Regions from separate parts of the Homo sapiens genome. Here region 2 is linked to region 1. The links come from fine-mapping of genetic effects on gene expression. A gene starts in region 1. The other region holds a variant in brackets. All regions are shown on one strand. Distances are between the middles of the regions.

Region 1 (5,373 bases):
CTCTTACTAAAGAATTCACACATATTTTTGCTGCTGCCACAGAGAAATTCCCCACTCCTCCCTCGGCCTGCCCTCTGTGCTTCCTCCATCTTTCTACAGGAAGACAGAGACTCATTCTCTGTGCCCTGTTTGGCTCCTTCTGGTAAAATGGAATATTTCTTTCATTGCTACCAGGAAGTTCTACCTATATGTGTCTGCTCCTATCTGATTCATTTACACCAACATGGCACAATCAGGGGCAATGTGGACACACACACTCCTACCCCATCTCTAGGGGACATTTAGCAATATCTGGAGACATTTTGGGTTGTCCTGGGGTAGGGGGGAGTAAAGACTGGGTAAAGACCAGGGATCTGGTAAACTTCCTACAATACACAGGATGACCCGCCACAACAAAGAATTACTCAGCCCAAAAATGTCAACAGGGCTGAGGTTGAAAAACACTGATTTAAACCAGGTTGAGGCCCTCGGCCGAAGCCCATTGGTACCTGAAAATCCAACTTTGCAGAGATTAATGCCTTAGGAGTTCCTGAGCTGTCTGCTAGATCTCAACAGGGTTCCCGGCCTCGGTTTCCAGTCTCTCTGATTCTAAATGGAGTCCCCTCAAGGGTTCCATTGCTCTTGGCTTCAGGAAATTACCAGCTTCATACAGATTCACTTGCTCCCAGAGCCTCCTTAGGCCAAGGTCAACCAAACACAACCCAATACTCTTGAGCTGAGCTTGCCTTCACTTCTGATCCTTCCTGCCTTTGTTTTCTTCAATCTTCTCGCTCAGGGACCTTTTTTTTTTTTTTGAGACGAGTCTCACTCTGTCGTCAGGCTGGAGTGCAGTGGCACAATCTCGGCTCACCACAACCTCCGCCTCACAGGTTCAAGTGATTCTCCTGCCTCAGCCTCCTGAGTACCTGGGACTACAGGCGTGCACCACCATGCCCAGCTAATTTTTGTATTTTTAGTAGAGACAGGTTTTCACCATGTTGGTTGGCCAGGATGGTCTCAATCTCTTGACCTCATGATCTGCCCGCCTCAGCCTCCCAAAGTGCTGGGATTATAGGCGTGAGCCACCGCACCAGGCCACTGGGGGACTTTTTAATTCATTATTTCAAAGCCTGTATAATTATCTGACTCCCTATTGTTTTCTGGGATCATGAAAATAATGAGCCCCAAACTGGAATTTAGTCCTTCCGATGCCCCCAGCCAGCTGTGTGACCCTGGGAAAGTAACTTAATTTCGCTAAACCTCAGTGTTCTGAGGAAAGGTCATCATTAAGGTATTTTTAGGCTCTAGAAGCCCTAAACTATGTCCTGTCATTTCAGAGTTCATGTTGGGTCTGGCTTTGTGTGGCCCAAAGCCCCCCATTTTTTTTTAAGACAGAGTCTCGCTCTGTCGCCCAGGCTGGAGTGCAGTGGCACGATCTCGGCTCACTGAAAGCTCCACCTCCAAGGTTCACGCCATTCTCCTGCCGAGTAGCTGGGACTACAGGCACCCACCACCACGCCCGGCTAATTTTTTGTATTTTTAGTAGAGACGGGGTTTCACCATGTCAGCCAGGATGGTCTCAATCTCCTGACCTCGTGATCTGCCCGCCTCAGCCTCCCAAAGTGCTGGGATTACAGGCGTGACCGAAGCCCTTTTTATCTGCATAGGTCTGCTCTAAACCTTCCGCTGGGGCAGGAGCTCCTGCGCTTGCCAGTCCCACACTCACCCACCTGTGACACACTGGCGATGAAAGCAGTCTCCTCAGGTGAACACATTTTATGTTGCAGTCACAGTATGAGCTTCAGATTGTCTTTTAAAAATACTTTTCCTTCTTCCATCCTAAAACAAAAATCACATTTAATGAGCACATTAAATTAATTAATCTAGAGAAAGATTCAGTCACCTGTTTAACCCAACCAATTGGGGTTTGGGAGATAGTCTGTGGTTGCCATTGCCATGAGTTTGAGACAAATGTTAGTTTTCTGAACAGCTGTTATGTTCTCAGGGAAAATTATCTGCCAAATGCAAAGGTTCTTATAAAAGTCAAGTCAACCCCCAAACTCCCCTCCCACAGTGCGGGAGGGCAGGCTTTGGGGGAAGGGGTAAGCTACTCTGAGATGGTAGCAGGCTCTGGGCCATGGTAAAGCCTTCGAAGAAGCTCCAAATCTTCAGGAAGCTGACCTGAAGATGAATGCGTGGGGAACATGGATTTTTGAGGTGTAGGAGTAGGGGGTATGTGGAAGCCAGTGACAGAGCTGAGCGTCACATCCAGGGTATCTTAGAGCAAAACAGGTAGCTCACATGGACCCAGGAACACGCCAGCAGAGAGGTGTCTGAAGGCAGCGCTCAGGTCGCAGAAGCATGAGGATCTGGCTGTCACCAGCCCCGTAGCCAGGGCTGTGAGGACCAGGGCAGCCGCTGTCCCCTGCCTAGCCTGGCAGCCTGGGATGAAGGAGGACACCAGGCTGGTGTCTGCAGAGAAGACTGTCCCTTGAAGCCCTGCCATAGGAGCCACCCTGGCTTTTATGACCTCACAGGAGGTGTGGGTCACTGTTCTCTGTGGGGCCTGGGTCCAGCTGGAGGCCCAAGCCAGGCTCCTAGGGCAGAGGGCAAACGGCCCCTCCAGGAGGGAGCCGGGAGATTACGCAGCTCCATGTAGGTCCACGTTTAGGTTGGGAGGATCTACCATGAAGAAGGTCAAGAAGAAAAGGTCAGAGGCCAGACGCCACCGAGACTCCACCTCCCAGCATGCTAGCTCCAATTCCACCTCTCAGCAGCCTAGCCCTGAATCCACACCACAGCAGCCTAGTCCTGAATCCACACCACAGCAGCCTAGCCCTGAATCCACACCACAGCATTCCAGCCTTGAAACCACCTCCCGGCAGCCAGCATTCCAAGCCCTTCCAGCACCCGAAATCCGCCGCTCCTCTTGCTGCCTTTTATCTCCAGATGCTAACGTGAAGGCAGCCCCTCAATCCAGGAAAGCAGGTGGGCTGTCTTCTAGCTTCAGCAGTTCCAGCCTTCCTGCTGATGGAGTTCTGGGTCATCCCAAAGGCTGGTTCTTGTAGGATAGTGATGCATGGTTAACGTGTATCCTGGAGCTGTGCTGTAGAGTGGGAAGGTTTTTGTTTTTGTTTCTACCCAAGAGACCAGGATTCCTGGGTTTTGTCATTTCTCATCATCCTGAGTCTCACTGAAGACAGCCACACATACATATAAACATTTAACTTGGTTCCATAGTAATACTTGCTCACTAGGAATCAGCAGTGCCATGCAACTGCTAAAAAATAAAAACCAAGGATGCATTTATAGAAGTATATGGTTTAGAATAAGGGAGGTGATGATACTGCTTTATTCTGTCCTCATCAAGCTATCCTTTTGGGCTGTAAAAGATGCCTGACAAACTAGTCCAAGGAAGATAGTCTGGGTTGATGGAGGATGAGAAGGATCAGGGAGACCATTTAGTGTATGACAGTCAATTGAAGGAATTGGAGGATGTCTGTCTGTCAAGTGGAAGATGTGAATAGACTTGTTCCTTATTGTCCTCAGAGATCTAAGGGTCTGATGTGGTTTGGCTGTGTCCCCACCCAAATCTCTTCTTGAATTCCCAGGTGTTGTAGGAAGGACCCAGTGGGAAGTGATTGAATCACGGGGGAGGGTCTTTTCCGTGGTGTTCTCGTGATAGTGAATAAGTTTCATGAGATCTAATGGTTTTAAAAAAGGGAGTTTCCCTGCACAAACTCTCTTCTCTTGTCTGCCGCCATGTGAGATGTGCCTTTCACCTTCCACCATGATTGTGAGGCCTCCCCAGCCACGTGGAACTGTAAGTTCCACAAACCTCTTTCTTTTGTAAATTGCCTAGTCTCAGATATGTCTTTATCAGCAGTGTGAAAACAGACAAATACAGGCCCATGGATAGGATAGCCAGACAAAATACAAGACTCTCAGTTAAATTTTAATTTTAGTAAACAACAAATAATATTTTTAGTATGTGTGTCCCCAGTATTGCATGGGCATCCTATATTTTTATTTGCTAAATTAGCAATCTTACCCATGGAAGACATTAGTGACAGAAAGCCTTCGGCTCAACATAAAAAACTTCCCAACAATTAGCTCTGTCTGAAAATGGAATGGCTGTCAGGAAAAGTGGTTCCCTGTCTTCTTGGGAGCCAAACAGTGTCTGTATAAGCATTGGATTGTGTAGAGGGAATTCAAGTGGAGTTCAGGAGGTGGGCTGGTTTATACTACTAACAATAATGGTGATAGCAAACTAACATTATCACTAAGCATTTACTGTGTACCTAGCATTCAGATCAGGTGTCTTAATTTTCACACGTGATAATCCTATAAAAGTTCTTCCATATTATCTCCATTTTATAGATGGGGAAACTGAGGCTCATAGGAGTCAAACAGGTTGCTCCTGAGCAGACGCTGGTAGCCCTGAGAAGGGAAACCCACTCTATTCTGACTCCAGAACCCTCACTTTAAACCACAGCACTGACCTTTCCATTCCAAGAGGCCTAGGAGTCTCCACAAGAGGAAGAACATCTCTGTCCGAGCATCTCCTGGATCTGCCATGAGCCAGTGCCCACGACTCCATAGCCTTGAACAGGCCACACTCCCTGGGCCACAGTTTACCCCCCGGGATTGTGTGGGCATAAAATAAATAAGTGATGGAGATGAGAGTGCTAAATATAAGGCATGCCATGCCAATGATCCTTCCATGGCCAGGAATCAAACCTTTCTTGACATATGATATTGATTTTGAGCACCATACTATATGTTGTAAAGATTGTGATCATCAGCCAGTGAGAGAAACATTTCTGGGTTATGATCTTCAGAACTGGCATCTTCAGTACTGGTAGAAAGCAAGACTTTCCATTCCCAAGTCTTTTAATGAACACATGTGACTCATACTCAGAGAAGAATTTGGCCCATTGAACAGGCAAAGCAAGAAAGCAAGAAATGGTGGTGGCTCGCCAGTGGTTACAGCAGACACCCTATACTTCTTCCAAAGGAATTCTCTGCGTAGAAAGGAATGTTGGAGATGAAGGATGAGGGCCTGCAAGTAAAGCGTGCCATTTTCTAAAATCCAAGCCTTTTTGTGTGCAGAAATATTGTAGCTCAAGAAAATGCCAGTCTTCCACTAGGATGGGTATAATCAGAAGGATGGACAATAACAAGTGTTGGTGAGGATGTAGAGAAGCTGGAATCCTCATACACTGTAGGCGGGAATGTAAAATGGTGCAGCTGCTGTGGAAACAGTCTGGTGGTTCCTCAGAGGAACATGAAGTTACCTTATGACCCAGCAATTCCACTTCTCAGTATACATCCAAGAGAATTCGAAGCATCTTATTAAGCATATTAGAAGCACACCAAAACTTGTACACAAAT
Region 2 (5,373 bases), 810 kb after region 1:
ATAAAAGGCTCATTTCCTAGGCTTAGAGACACTTGCCCAAGAAGCCCTCTTTTCCTCTGCAGGATGTTTACATTTTGCCTCAAAGTGGTAACGACTGTAGAGGACTTAGATTTGTCAGCAGTCTTATTGGAGGAGTGAGGTGTGTGCATCTGAAACACAAAGGAGATGCAGTGGTGTGGGAGGCCATCGAAGAGGGAGAGGCACTGCCAGGCAAGTACAGATTGAAGGGTGGCAGATCAGTGTGGGCTGCAGCAGTCAGGGCAGTTTGTATGGACCAGGTGCTCAACTCTCCAGGCAGGATCAGAGGGGCAACCTGGGGAGGAGCGGTAACCCCCGGGGTGCATGAACAACAGAAGGGCATAGGGGGAATGACTGCTTCCAAGTGTGGTGTGGGGGACGAGTGTGGCTGAGATGGCTTGAGTGCAGGGCATGTGTTGAGGAGTGGGAAGGAAGGTACCTGATCTTGGTATTTCAGAACTAGAGAAAAAACCAAGTTTTTCCCTGGGCCAAGTCTTATTTCTTTTTATTGCATGTCAGGGTTACTGAGCCCCTAAAAAAGCTGAATGAGAGCAGTTTCTACAGGAGAAAATGGCTTGAGGAAGTAAATAGGCATCTGAATAACAGGGGAAAGTGTCCATGCTTCTGTCTACTTATTTGTTCAAAAGCTTTTGACAGGATCTTGAATCTCAAAGGCTTTTAAATAGAATTGAGTCACCATGAGAGAGGGAGGCTGCGTTATGGTAGGGAGTGGCAGTACAGAAATGAAGCAGAGGGTCAGCCCTTCTGTGACTGCAGAAGGATGATGCGCGGGCTCCCTCAGGACCAGAGTGAGAACCATGAGTTTGTGGCTCTGTGAAGGAGAAGCATTGGAAGTGTTGAGCTTTGAAAAGAAAAAGAGTAAAACAGCAAAGCCTTGGGAGTCAGTTGAACTGGTCAGTTGCTGAGAGGCTGGCAGCGGAGCGTTGCCGTTGGTGGATGTGCCACAGGCAGAGTTTGCTCCTTGGCTGGCAGGTCAGGGACTCATCACTCAGCCCAGCCATAGATACTCTGAGTCCAAAGCCGGCCCAAATCACCTTGGGCCACTCTAAAGAGAGAAATAAATGCCGGTTGTCACTTTCTGATAGGCTGATAATGACTTTATGCTACAAAAACATAGGTGAAGCGGATTGAAAATATAACCATTATTTGGGGATTGATTAATGCCTTTTCCTTACTCATGCAGGGGTTATGAGACTGTCAGTAAATCTAAGACATGTTAAATAATGTAGAAAACTATTTGTAGTATAAGCTGATTTTTTTTTTTTTTTTTGAGACAGAGTCTGGCTCTGTAGCCCAGGCAGGAGTGCAGTGGCGCGATCTTGGCTCACTGCAAGCTCTGCCTCCCGGGTTCACGCCATTCTCCTGCCTCAGCGTCCCGAGTAGCTGGGACTACAGGTGCCCGCCACGTCACCCGGCTAACTTTTTATATTTTTAGTAGAGATGGGGTTTCACCGCGTTAGCCAGGATGGTCTCGATCTCCTGACCTCGTGATCTGCCTGCCTCAGCCTCCCAAAGTGCTGGGATTACAGGCGTGAGCCACTGTGCCTGGCCTAAGCTGATTGTTTAGTAAAAATTATTACACAAATAACTTGAGGAAATAAGGCTAAATAGTGCTTATCAGACAAGATGAAATTAGGAATTTTTTTTGGTTTTGTTTTTTTAATTTTTAATAAAGCTATTTTGCCAAATGGGAAAGGTAATTATTTGCTTGGAAAGATACCCCATTTTGGAAATACAGTCCTTGAAACAAAAACTTGTTTGTTTTCTAATGTCTTATTTGATTAAAATTTTGTCAGCTTTTGGGGAGACTTTAAAACACATTCCCTCAGGTAATGTTAAATTGCAGGATCTTCTTTGGAAGTTAGAGGTAACTGACATGCAAATAAATAAACTAAAGTCATGTCGTTACCTCTTATTATGATTTTAGTTCATTTTCTTCTGGATATTTAGAAAATATATCAAATTGGAGAAGCCTTAGAATGTTATTTTATAAAGCAGTGTTCCCTGAGAAGTCAAATTTCTTAATTTTTCCTCCAATGTCATCAAAATATGCCTTAGCTGGGCATGATAGTATGTGTCTGTAGTCCCAGCTACTTAGGAGGCTGAGGCAGGCAAATTGGTTCATGCCAGAAGTTTGAGACCAGCCTGGGCAACATAGCAAGATCCCATTTCTATTTTTTAAAAAAAGTCTTAAAACAAATAATATTTCTTTTATCAGAGAAAGAGTGATAAGCCATTGGCTTGCTCCAGATCATTCACTCACCACCTTGCCAGGTGACTCACTGAATGAGGTACACCAAAGTGGCAGTGAGCCGCTGGGAGGGCGAGATGCCTCAGGGTTCTGGGGTTCCCAGATTGTGTTTTGTTGTCTGGCAGGACACTGGATAAACCCAGAGTTGAATTCCCCTCCCTGTTTATTATATATATATATATATATTTTTTTTTAAATTTTATATATATATATATATATATATTTATATATTTCCAGGCACTGGGTCTTGCTGTGTCACCCAGGCTGGAATCAGTGGTGTAATCATAGTTCACTGCAGCCTCAAACTCCTGGACTTAAGTGATCCTCCTGCCTCAGCCTCCTGAATAGCTAGGACTATAGGCATGTGCCACCACACCAGGCACATGTTTTTTTCTTTTATGTCTTTTTGTTGAGATAAGGTCTTACTTGAATGTCATCTAGGCTGGAGTGCAGTGGTGCAGACATGGCTCACTGTAGCCTCTACCTCTTGGGCTTAAGCGATCCTCCTGCCTCAGCCACTTGAGTAGCTGGGACTACAG[G/A]TGCATGCCACCATACCTGGCTAAAATTTTTTTTTTTTTTTTTAAGAAAGACAGGGTCCCACTATGTTGCCCAGGCTGGTCTTGAACACCTGCTCTTGAGCAATTCTCTTTGCTCAGCCTCCCAAAGTGCTAGAAGTATAGGTGTGAGCCACCATGCCCAGCCTGCCCTCTGTAATGACTGTTCCAGCCCACAGTCCTCTGTCATTCTCTCTTCAGAAAGGCTACAGCGTTGATTGAGGTTACAGAAGTTTAGGGCATGGCTTTTCCCCCTGTCTCAAAATAGTGACAACAAAAAACAATTTATGATCTAGTTAAGGTGGATTCTGCAGATGATGGCTCTCCTCCAGGAACCCAATTTTTGTCTCACCCTCATAGCATTGTTTTGTCTTTGCATTTGGACTGTCTCTTACCCTCAAGCTCATAATATTCTGACTGTTGAGAACTTTTGACCCTGACAACTCCTTTTCACTATGTAGAAAACTGGCTGGGTGTGGTGGCTCATGCCTGTAATCCCAGCACTTTGGGAGGCCAAGGTAGGAGGGTCAGTTGACCCTGGGAGTTTGAAAACAGCCTGGACAACGTGGTGAAACCTTGTCTCTACAAATAAGTTTTTAAAAATTAGCCAGGCATGGTGGCAAGCGCCTGTGGTCCAAGCTGCTCAGGAGGCTGAGGTGGGAGGATCACTTAAGCCTGGGCAGTTGAGGCTGCAGTGAGCTGTGATTGTGCCACTATACTCCATCCTGTACAACAGAGTAAGACTCTGTCTCCAAAAAAAAAAAAAAAAAAGACTAAAAAAGCTATTACTTATTTGACTGCACTGTTCTTCCCTACCACCACCATCCTCTTCCTGCTGTTTCTTCCTCTCAACGAACTGAGGAGCAAAGGTTTGGAATAGTCACTTTTCAGCAGGCAATATAGCAGTACTGATTCAAATGTAAAATGTAAATCGACTTTGATCTGGAAAGCTCACTTCTAGGAGTATCTTCCATAGATGTTCACAGAAGTATGCAAAGGTAAACATAAAGGGCTGTTCAGAGTAGCACTGAAACCCAAACTAGGAACCAATTCAAAAAACTGGAAAACTGGAGAACCTTCCTAATAGAATAGGGTTCAAGTGTCACAGAGGATATCTGTTCTGACGTGGTAAAATGTTCAAGAGCTGCTTAAGTATTTACGAGTCTGTATTTTGTTAAGTGAAAGAAAGCTATACTGCACACGGTAGTGTCATAGCATTTTGCCAGTACTTCTATTACATTTTCTTCATTTCTCACTTAGTTGGCTGAAGTTCATCCTCTACTGGTTTATTCAAGAAGGTTCATGGAGCTGTATTCCCAAAGTTTTTATGAAAATATTTGTGGTTTTATAAATGAATAACAGCAGAGTGTAGAATTCTTGGGTCCCTCTTTCTGAGGACATTTTAATCACGATTTATTTCACTGTTGGTGATGTGCCTCTTTGCCAAATGTTCCCCTTCCATTTGTTTCAACCAGGAGAGCATTAGTCCCACATTTTTGCTTGACTCATTTCCACAAATCTGCTGTGAGTAGCCCAGGCTCGTTTCTGCTCATCTGGATTTCTGAAGAGAATTTCAGGTTTTCTTGCAGAGGATTTTAGCTTCCTGTCTGAAGTGAAGACATAGTGAGAGCAAGTTTTGGTGAGCACATACAGGCTGAGCACTCCAATTCTATATCTCCCCACCAGGTTACCAACATCAAGAAGACACTCAAAGCCACCGCATCCTCCTCGGCTCAGGAGATGGAGCAGCAGCTGGCTGAACGGGAGTGTCCCCCTCACGCTGAGCAGAGGCAGCCCACCAAGAAGATGTCCAAAGTGAAAGGTCTGGTCTCCAGCCGCCACTAGGGCCGGCTGGGGCAGCTGGCACTCACCAGGCCTGGGTCAGGTGGGGAGGGGACACCAAGGGCCCATTTCCTCCCCTCTCTACCTGCAGTGAGTTCCAGACCTGCCCGTCCCCTCACCAGCGCCTCCCCACCCTGTTGGTACTGTTCCAGAAAAACTGTTACTCCCCCTCACCCACTCCCTCCTTCCCCAGTTGTTCCCTTCAGACTCAGGGGCTCCACCAATGCCATCCCAAAACAGGGTCAGACACTGCCCAGCTTCCCTCCAGGAGGTTCTTGTCTCTGTGTAAGGGCTTGTCTCCCTCCCAGTTTTTCTTTTGCTCCACGTCATTTTGTCAGGCTGGTTATAAGCCGGAGGCAGCTTTAACCAGCCCCCAGGGATGATTGTGAAGGAGGCCCCTCCCCTTGTGAGGAGGGGGCACTCCTCTCCAGCCCCTGGTACCACAGTCCTCACGATGGTGCAGTGATTTCTAGCCAGGCGTCAAGATGCGCTGCTTTCCCTCTCCTGCCTCATCCCTTGTTGGCAGCTCCAGTTCAGGCCGTGGAGGGACGTGATGCTGGGCTGTGTTTACTAAACCCACGGGTTTTCAGCCTCTTAAGCCCAGCTCCGATCTCCAATTAGTTGAGAGCGCTGGGTTGACTAACCTCTGGTATCTGAGCACAGACAGAGGGTGCTGTGGGTCTGCTG

Evidence for each region. PIP is the estimated chance that this variant, and not a neighbour inherited with it, causes the effect. A credible set is the group of variants that fine-mapping cannot tell apart.
Region 2: its variant is the best candidate, but not a certain one, in a credible set for the expression of SPATA3 in nucleus accumbens (GTEx, PIP 0.77).

The regions. Positions count from the first base shown.
Region 1 is chr2:230,993,568-230,998,940 of GRCh38, forward strand. It overlaps SPATA3 (spermatogenesis associated 3), which reads left to right and starts at 2,554. Exons shown (of 5, transcript NM_139073.5): 1 at 2,554-2,967. The coding sequence starts at 2,667. It overlaps SPATA3-AS1 (SPATA3 antisense RNA 1), which reads right to left and starts at 2,465. Exons shown (of 6, transcript NR_033879.1): 1 at 2,281-2,465; 2 at 1,710-1,818. RefSeq lists an enhancer at 2,065-2,598.
Region 2 is chr2:231,802,957-231,808,329 of GRCh38, forward strand. It overlaps COPS7B (COP9 signalosome subunit 7B), which reads left to right. Exons shown (of 7, transcript NM_022730.4): 7 at 4,531-5,373. The coding sequence ends at 4,689. Among named protein-coding and RNA genes, the nearest start is that of COPS7B, 19 kb to the left of the region's middle. The variant G/A (reference allele first, on the strand shown) is at 2,830.